Regions from separate parts of the Homo sapiens genome. Here region 2 is linked to region 1. The links come from fine-mapping of genetic effects on gene expression. A gene starts in region 1. The other region holds a variant in brackets. All regions are shown on one strand. Distances are between the middles of the regions.

Evidence for each region. PIP is the estimated chance that this variant, and not a neighbour inherited with it, causes the effect. A credible set is the group of variants that fine-mapping cannot tell apart.
Region 2: its variant is the best candidate, but not a certain one, in a credible set for the expression of RFC4 in spinal cord (GTEx, PIP 0.56).

The regions. Positions count from the first base shown.
Region 1 is chr3:186,804,061-186,808,456 of GRCh38, reverse strand. It overlaps RFC4 (replication factor C subunit 4), which reads left to right and starts at 1,975. Exons shown (of 11, transcript NM_002916.5): 1 at 1,975-2,167; 2 at 3,733-3,874. The coding sequence starts at 3,744. RefSeq lists enhancers at 1,196-1,807, 1,808-2,419.
Region 2 is chr3:186,774,840-186,779,235 of GRCh38, reverse strand. No RefSeq gene overlaps it. Among named protein-coding and RNA genes, the nearest start is that of EIF4A2, 6.5 kb to the left of the region's middle. RefSeq lists a silencer at 1,642-1,843 and an enhancer at 2,583-3,417. The variant T/C (reference allele first, on the strand shown) is at 2,039.

The DNA.
Region 1 (4,396 bases):
GGAGGTGGGGCCTTTGGGAGGTGACTGGTTCAATAGAGTGGAACCCTCATGAATGGGAGAAATGCCTTCATAAAGGAGATGGCTGGAGAAAACTAGTTAGCCCTTTCCACCAAGTGAGGTTACAGCAGTAAGACAGCTGTCAATGAGGGAGTGAACCCTCACCAGCCACTGAATCTTATGGTGCCTTGATCTTGGACTTCCCAGCCACTAAAACTGTGAGAAATAAATTTATGATGTTTATAAGCCACCCAATCTATGGCTTATAAACATAGCAGCCAAAATGGACAAAGACCACTTATCCATCAGCTTGTCTGTTTTTTTGTTTGTTTGTTTTTGAGACGGAGTCTCGCTCTGTCACCAGGCTGGAATGCAATGGCGTGATCTCAGCTCACTGCAACCTCCACCTACCGTGTTCAAGCGATTCTCCTGCCTCAGCCTCCCAAGTAGGTGGGATTACAGGCACCTGCCATCATACCTGGCTAATTTTTGTATTTTTGTAGAGATGGAGTTTAACCATGTTGGCCAGGCTGGTCTTGAACTCCCGACCTCAGGTGATCCGCCCACCTCGGCCTCCCAAAGTGCTGTGATTACAGGCATGAGCCACCGTGCCCAGCCCAACTTGTCTGTTAAATGAGATCATAACATCCCCCTCTCTGTGGTTGTGCTGTTCCTTCAGGTAGCAAATGGATACCATCTATTTTCATAGATCTTGTTTTATCAACTGTATTGTGGTATAATTTACATACAATAAAATATACAAGCATTAAGTATACAGTTTGATAAGTTATGGTAATGTAAACCGGTGACCAGATAGATAACCTGTGTGTTTTTTATACTGTCCAGAGATTGTATCAGACTCTGTGGAAATTACAAAGTAGCATAAAGCATCCTTACTTTGGTTAAACCCTTGATTGGGTTAGGCCTGGGATGTAAGTTCTCACAGCCCCCTACTTCCTCTGCATAACCACACATCACATTGTCTGTCACTCTCCTAGTCTGTAAAGCTACTTGAGGGCATCTCGAGCGTTTTCCCTGCTGTATCTGCAGGCATCTAACACAGTGCGTGGACATTCTGTAAGCATTTGTTGCAAGATAAATGAAAAAAACGTACAAAGTTAACAATGGATATCATGCTGAGTTTGTGCCAAACAAAACAGTCATTTGAAGAAGACCCGGAACAACCTTATGGGTTAGTAATTAGTAAAGACCAGTAGAGAAGGTGGCCTTTGAGAAGGGTCAGGTTTCAATAGGATTAAGGAGCATTTCAGAGCTAAACCAAGTACTTGGAAGAGATAAAAGCAGTGGGCTCAGGCACCAGCCTAGCCCACTGTGCATGAAGCTTGGTGGGGCTAAACATGATTATCAGTCCTTTAACTTTTATTGAACGCCTTCACTTCCAGATTTCTAAGTGGGGCTCAGGAATTATAATAGATGTCCACAGCTGCATGGTCTTCTCTCTCCACAACACGCAGACACTATTAGAAGTAAAAGCCACGTGTCCTCAAGAGGGCAAGGCAAAGCATCTTCAGATGTCTCTGCCCTTAAAGCACACGCGTTCTGCTCTGCGACGAAGCAGGACAAGGAGGACAGGGACCTGCACCTCCGGAGGCCCGCACCTACGAAGATAGCGGGCTCGGGACCTTCGGTGGACCGGCAGGGTTCCAGAGGCCCGCGCGCCGCCGCCCCGCCCTCATTGCTGAGCCTGCCAGGTAAGCAGCCCCAGCGCCGTGCCCGCGCGACCTCTACTCCTTCCGGGAGGGTCGCGCTCACGTCTGAAGTGGGAGCAATGCACCGGGACAGGGACACCTCCTAGGCCATGCCTGTTCCAGTCCAGTTCTGCCTGAAAGTCCGGCTGGCTCATCACCTGCCTAAATAAAACCGTATACGGGCAAACTCCCTCCGCAAGCAGCGCGCCCCAGCACCGGAAGTGACGCGTTACGTGCCCGCGTATTCCTACCGGCGTATTCCCGCCCTGCTTTTCGCCCGCCGTTCCGTGGCGGGAACTGAGGCGACTGTGGGGACATCAGTGATCGTAAGTCTCCTGGGCCCGTTATTCTCAGATTAGGTGACGGAGCTAAGACTTCGAGACCATCTCGTCCTTTTTGTATCGCGGAAACCTGAGGAACGAGCCGGCGGCGGTGACCTGCACGAGAAGCCAGGCTAACTGGTAACCTGCTGGAGGAACTGCAAGCCCGCTTCGCCTTCCCCACTCCTGCCCTTGATGCCCCTTGTGAGGTCTTCCACCTCCTTCGGGGCCCCAGCCTAGTGGCCCTTTCATGCCCTGGCCGCGCCCTTTGGTGAAATGGTGGTTCCGGACAGCATCTTGCAGGCCCCGGCTTTGGGCTGTATTAATGTTTAACAGCCCGAGGCAGGGATGGACTAATCCAGTAACGTTATAAAAACCTTGGCTGCTAACAGATATTAAAAATTTATTTTATTGAGCATATCCCCATATGCCAAGCAAGGAACTATGTATTTGCATACATTCTTTTATTTAACTCAGTTGTCCTGTGGAATAGGCCTTAGCTCCTTTAACAGAAAAGGAAACCGGGTATCATAGATGGTAATTCATTCACCAAATATTACGGAGCATCTACCATGTACCAGGCACTGTTCTAGGCACCAGGGCATGTAGCAGTGAAAAAAATAGAATTAACCGGGGACTTTTCAGGCGAGCTAATGATGCTTTTTATCCCTGAAAACAGCCTGGAAGAATGTTTACCTGCATGTTAGAAATAGTTACCTTCTGGGTGGGATTTTGTATTACTTTTTTAAATCTCTCATGCTTTTATGCATTGTTTTGATTTCTTCAAGTGAGTGTGTTATGAGAAAAACAGCTGTTTCTATTTTAACAACAGAGTCCCCCACCTTCCCTTCCCCACAGAAAGTCTCTGAAGGTAGGTAAGCATTGACTCTGCCATGAAAATAGGTCCCTGGCCAGGCGAGATGGCTCACACCTGTAATCCCAGCACTTTGGGAGGCCGGGGCAGGAGGATTACTTGAGCCCAGGAGTTCCAGACCAGCCTAGGCAACATGGTGAAACCCTGTCTCTACCAAAAATTTAAAAAATTAGCCGGGGGTGGTGGCACGCACCTGTAGTCCTAGCTACTGGGGAGGCTGAAGTGGGAAGATGACAGGAGCCTGGGATGTCAAGGCTGCAGTGAACCATGATTCCGCCACTGCACTCCATCCTAGGCAAAAGAGTGAGACCCTGTCTCAAAAACAACAACAACAAAAAAAGGTCTTTGAGTTCTGACCCAAGGAAAGGAGTGAAGGTTCTCATTTGTGGTGCAAGCAGAGCACCTTTAATTGCCGAAGAGTCCATTTCAGGGTCTGAGCTAGAGCTAGGCCCATGACTGTGAAAGAAACCATGGAGGCCCATGTGGTTTGGTCATTAGCAACATCATATTTATCAATGCATTTGGAACTCATTAAACATTTTTGTGACATATGATCTTTGTTCTATAACTCCTGCACTAGAAATAGATTCTAAGTTCGTTAGGGACTTTGACCACTTTTCTGTTCTTGTAGCCCTCAGTACAGTGCATTCAGAGTGTCCTAGGTCATGGGGTGATGTCCTTTATTATGTAACATCTTTGCACAAGGCTAAGTTTATTTTCGGGCTGTACTTTCTCATAATGGTTCCCCACCACCACCCCCGCTTTCCTATGGTGCTGATTCGCAATAAAAGTTTCAATAAAAGCTTTTTTTTTCTGTCTTGCACCTGACCAGGGTGAAGTACCATGCAAGCATTTCTTAAAGGTACATCCATCAGTACTAAACCCCCGCTGACCAAGGATCGAGGAGTAGCTGCCAGTGCGGGAAGTAGCGGAGAGAACAAGAAAGCCAAACCCGTTCCCTGGGTGGAAAAATAGTAAGAACACTTGTGTCTTTGTTAAAATAATTCATAAATTATCTCTCTAACCAGTACTGATCACTTTTTTTTTTTTTTAACTTATGGAGGAATGCTTTGTTCTGTTTAGAAGTTGTCTTTGAAAAAAAATCACCCACTTATATAAGTCATAGAACCCTGGAACTAAAGTTACCTGAGAATAATCTAGTTTAACTCCCTTATTTTGTAGATAAACTGAGATCTCTACAAGCAGAGGCTTCCATTTTAGGGGCTGGGATACAGAAGTGAAGAAAACAAAAGTTTCTGTAAACTGGCTATAAATACTAGGTCAGGAGTTCTACTTAAATCCAAATATGTAATCTGTTCCTCCTTCTTCTCATTACAATAGGTGGAAAGTATTATTATTATTATTACTATTTTTGAGACGGAGTCTCACTCTGTTGCCCAGGCTGGCGTGCAGTGGCATGGTCTCGACTCACTGCAACCTCCACCTCCTGGGTTCAGGTGATTATCCTGCCTCAGCCTCCCAAATAGTAGGGATTA
Region 2 (4,396 bases), 29 kb after region 1:
TTGAGACAAGCCAGGCCAACACGGTGAAACCCCATCTCTATCAAAAATACAAAAATTAGCTGGGCATGGTGGCGCACACCTGTGGTCCCAGCTACAGGGGAGGCTGAGGCAGGAAAGCAGGAGAATCACTTGAATCTGGGAGGCAGAGGGTGCACTGGCATGATCATGGCACTCCAGCCTGGGCGACATCTTTATTTTACCTCAAAGATTCACTATTTTGGCCAGGCATGGTGACCCACAGCTGTAACCCCAGCACTTTGGAAGGCCAAGGCCAGTGGATCACCTGAGGTCGGGAGTTTGACACCAGCCTGGCCAACGTGGTGAAACCCTTTCTCTACTAAAAATACAAAAAATTAGCCAGGCATGGTGGTGGGCGCCTGTAATCCCAGGTACTCGGAAGGTTGAGGCAGGAGAATTGCTTGAACTCAGGAGGTGGAGGTTGCAATGAGCCAAGATTGCGCCACCACACTCCAGCCTGGGTGACAGAGCAAGACTGTCTCAAAAAAAAAAAATCACTGTTTTTCATCAGTTTGCACATCTCTTCGAGATTACATGAAGTCTCCAGGATCAGGTTTGTCTTCAGGACAAACCTACACCTCTGTGAAGGATGGAAGAAAGACCATGATTGGCAATCTCACCCCAGAAATGTGGGCCTGGTATCTGGAATCCCACTCCTGTGCCCCATTACCTGGGGCTCTATACTACCCTCTTCATGTGACACAACCAACTCATCTTTCATGTTTGTTTGTTTTCTTTTTGAGACAGAGTTTCGCTCTCGTTGCCCAAGCTGGAGTGCAGTGGTGCAATCTCGGCTCACTGCAGTCTCTGCCTCCCGGGTTCAAGCGATTCTCCTGCCTCAGCCTCCCGAGTAGTGGGATTACAGGCATCCACCACCACGCCCGGCTAATTTTGTATTTTTAGTACAGACGGGGTTTCTCCATGTTGGTCAGACTGGTCTCGAACTCCCAACCTCAGGTGATCCGCCCGCCTCTGCCTCCCAAAGTGCTGGGATTACAGGTGTGAGCCACCATGCCTGGCCAGGAATTTATCTCTTTTAATTCTTATAACGTTGCCCGGCCTCATCTTTCATCTTTATCATATAAATGAGATAAAGTTTATATATACATATATATAAACTATATATTTATATATACGTATATATAAACTATATATACATATATAAACTATATATACGTATATATAAACTATATATACGTATATATAAACTATATATGTATAAACTATATATGTATATATAAACTATATATATACATATATTCCTATATAGTTCATTAAAAATAATAGTTATATCGTTTTTTGGAAATGACAGAAAACAATCACCAACCCCAAGAATGTCTGTTTGTTTTTAAACATAATGGAAATCATACTTTAGGTAAAAATTTTTTCCTCTATTTTTTCTTTTTTTTTTTCTTTTTTTGTTTGTTTGTTTTTGTTTTTTGAGACAGAATCTCTCTCTGTTGCCCAGGGTGGAGTGCAAATGGTGCGATTTGGCTCACTGCAACCTCCACCTTCCAGATTCAAGTGGTTCTCCTGTTTCAGTCTCCTGAGTAGCTGGGATTACAGGTGCATGCCACCACACCCAGCTAATTTTTGTATTTTAGAAGAGACAGGGTTTTGCCATGTTGGCCAGGCCGGTCTTGAATTCCTGACTTCAGGTGATCCACCCGTCTCGGCTCCGCAAAGTGCCGGGATTACAGGCTGAGCCACCGCACCCGGCCCTTCATTATTTTAATAGGAAAAAAAACTATTAAAATAATAAAACTATAAACGACTTCAATGGCTGTCAAAAGAAGATTGGTTAGTAAATTGTATGCCGTGTGTATTAGTCATTACAAACAGTGAGGTCTACTTCTACTTCTGGAGAGATGGAGTAGGCAAAATTTTTCCTGTTCCTCCTACTAAGTGCAACTGAAAACCCTGGACATTATATATAAAGCAAACACAAGAAGACTCTGGGAGGTGGGGAAAAGAAGGCAGACAGGTAGGAACCTCAAGATACACATGATAGTGAATTCCC[T/C]GGGTTTTCTTCCTCCTTCACACATCCTGAGTTGAAACTGAAGAAGCGGCCGGACGCGGTGGCTCACGCCTGTAATCCCAGCACTTCGGGAGGCCGAGGCGGGCGGATCACGAGGTCAGGAGATCAAGCCCATCCTGGCTAACATGGTGAAACCCCTGTCTCTACTAAAAATACAAAAAATTAGCCGGGCGTGGTGGCGGGCACCTGTAGTCCCAGTTACTTGGGAGTCTGAGGCAGGAGAATGGCGTGAACCCTGGAGGCGGAGCTTGCAGTGAGCTGAGATCGTGCCACTGCACTCCAGCCTGGGCGACAGAGCGAGACTCCACCTCAAAAAAAAAAAAAAAAAAAAACAAAACAAAACAAAACTGAAGAAGCTAGCAACCCAGAAAAGCCAACCGGCATAGACTAGAAAAGCTCCAGCAAAAGGCTGCTTTCTCTACCCAGGACAGAGGCATTCTAGGAAGATAGAAAAGTTGTAGACAGTAATTCCATTATTTCAGCCAAATACCACAGAAGCAGCTGTGGTCCTACCCACACCCATGCCAGCAAAAGCCAACTGGGGAGCCCACGATTCTACCCTTGGGAGGCTGTAATGAGGTTCTCTGACAACCTCCACCCCCAGACCCCCGCCACTACCACCACCACATTGTCAGAGGAGACCACGGAGCAGCTTCAACTTCCAGGCCCACTGGGCAGGAAGAAAGGTGATCCTTCAGATCCCACTAAGGTGGTGTTATACAAGGCCCGCTGGGAAATCAGGACTTGATCGCACAGTCGTCATGAGGCCACCTCATTGTAGTGTCGGTGGAGACCACATGAGGAACTCCAGCCCCCACCCAGCAGTAACAAGGATCATCCCCTCTGGTGTGTGTGAGAAATCTGGACTTCTACCTCCTGCTGGCAGTAGGAAGGCTGTGCTGTCCTTCCCCGGCCAGAGCGGCATCAGAGAAAGCCAGCCAGAGCCAGAGATTGAAGTAAGATCTAATGAGCATGTGAAAAATGCTCAGCATCCCTAATCACTAGAGGAATGCAAATCAAAACCGCAGTGAGATACCACTTCACACCCATTAAGATGACTATTATTATTTTAAATAGAGAACGGGGTGGGAAGGCTTGGGAGGCGAGTCTCAATTGTTGCTTAGGCTGGTCGTGAACTCCTAGGCTTAAGCAATCCTCCTGCCTCCGCCTCCCAAAGTGCTGGGATTACAGGTGTGAGCCAGCACGGCTGACCAAAATGACTATTAATTTTTTAAAAAAATAGAAAATAACAATTGTTGGTGTGGATGTGGAAAACCAAAATCCTTGTACATTGCTAGTAGAAATGTAAAATGGTGTAGCCACTGTGAACAGTATGGCAGTTACTCCAAAAATTAAAGAATTATCATATGATCCACCAATTCCACTTCTGAGTATATACCTAAAATAATTGATAGCAGGGATGCAAACAGATTATTTGTACACCAGTGTTCATAGCAGCATTATTCACAATAGCCAAAAGGTGACAGCAACCCAAGCATCCATTGACGGATCAGTAGATAAAACAAGTGTGGCTGGGCGTGGTGGTTCACGCCTGTAATTCCAGCACTCTGGGAGGCTGAGACATGAAGATCAGTTGAGTTCAGAAGTTTGAGACCAGCCTGGGCAATATAGGGAGACCCCATCTCTACAAAAAAATCAAGTAATTAGCCAGGTGTGGTGGCATGTGCTTGTGGTCCCAGCTACTCGGGGAAGGCTGAGGCAGGAGGCTTGCTTGAGCCTGGGAGATGAAGGCAGCAGTAAGCCATGATCACGCCACTGCACTCCAGCCCGGGGGCAACAGAACAAGACCCTGTCTCCAAAAAACAAACAACACAAAAAATCAAATTGTGCTTTATACATCAATGGAATATTATTCAGCCTTAAAAAGGAATGAAATTCCGATCCATGCTACAGTACGAATGCACCTTTGAAGACATTATGCTAAGTGAAATAAACCAGACACAGAAGGACACGTAGTATATGAGTCCACTTATATGAGCATAGAAACAGAAAGTAGGAGGGTTATCAGGGCCTGGGGGAGGGGAGAATGAGGAGTTACTGTTTAATGTGAACAGAGTTCCAATTTGGGGAAAAAGGTTTGCAGATGAATAGCCGTCATGGTTGTATCACATCATGAATATGCACAATGCTACTGAAGTATACGCTTAAAAATGGTTAAAATGGTACTTTTTATGTTATTCCTATTTTACCAAAATAAAAATATATTCCTAGCCAGATAATCTAGTTAGAATGAAGTTAATCCATTAGAATGTTTTGTTTTCCCACCTAATTGTAGTTGTTAGTCTACTGATTTAAAAAACAGGCCAGATACGGTGGCTC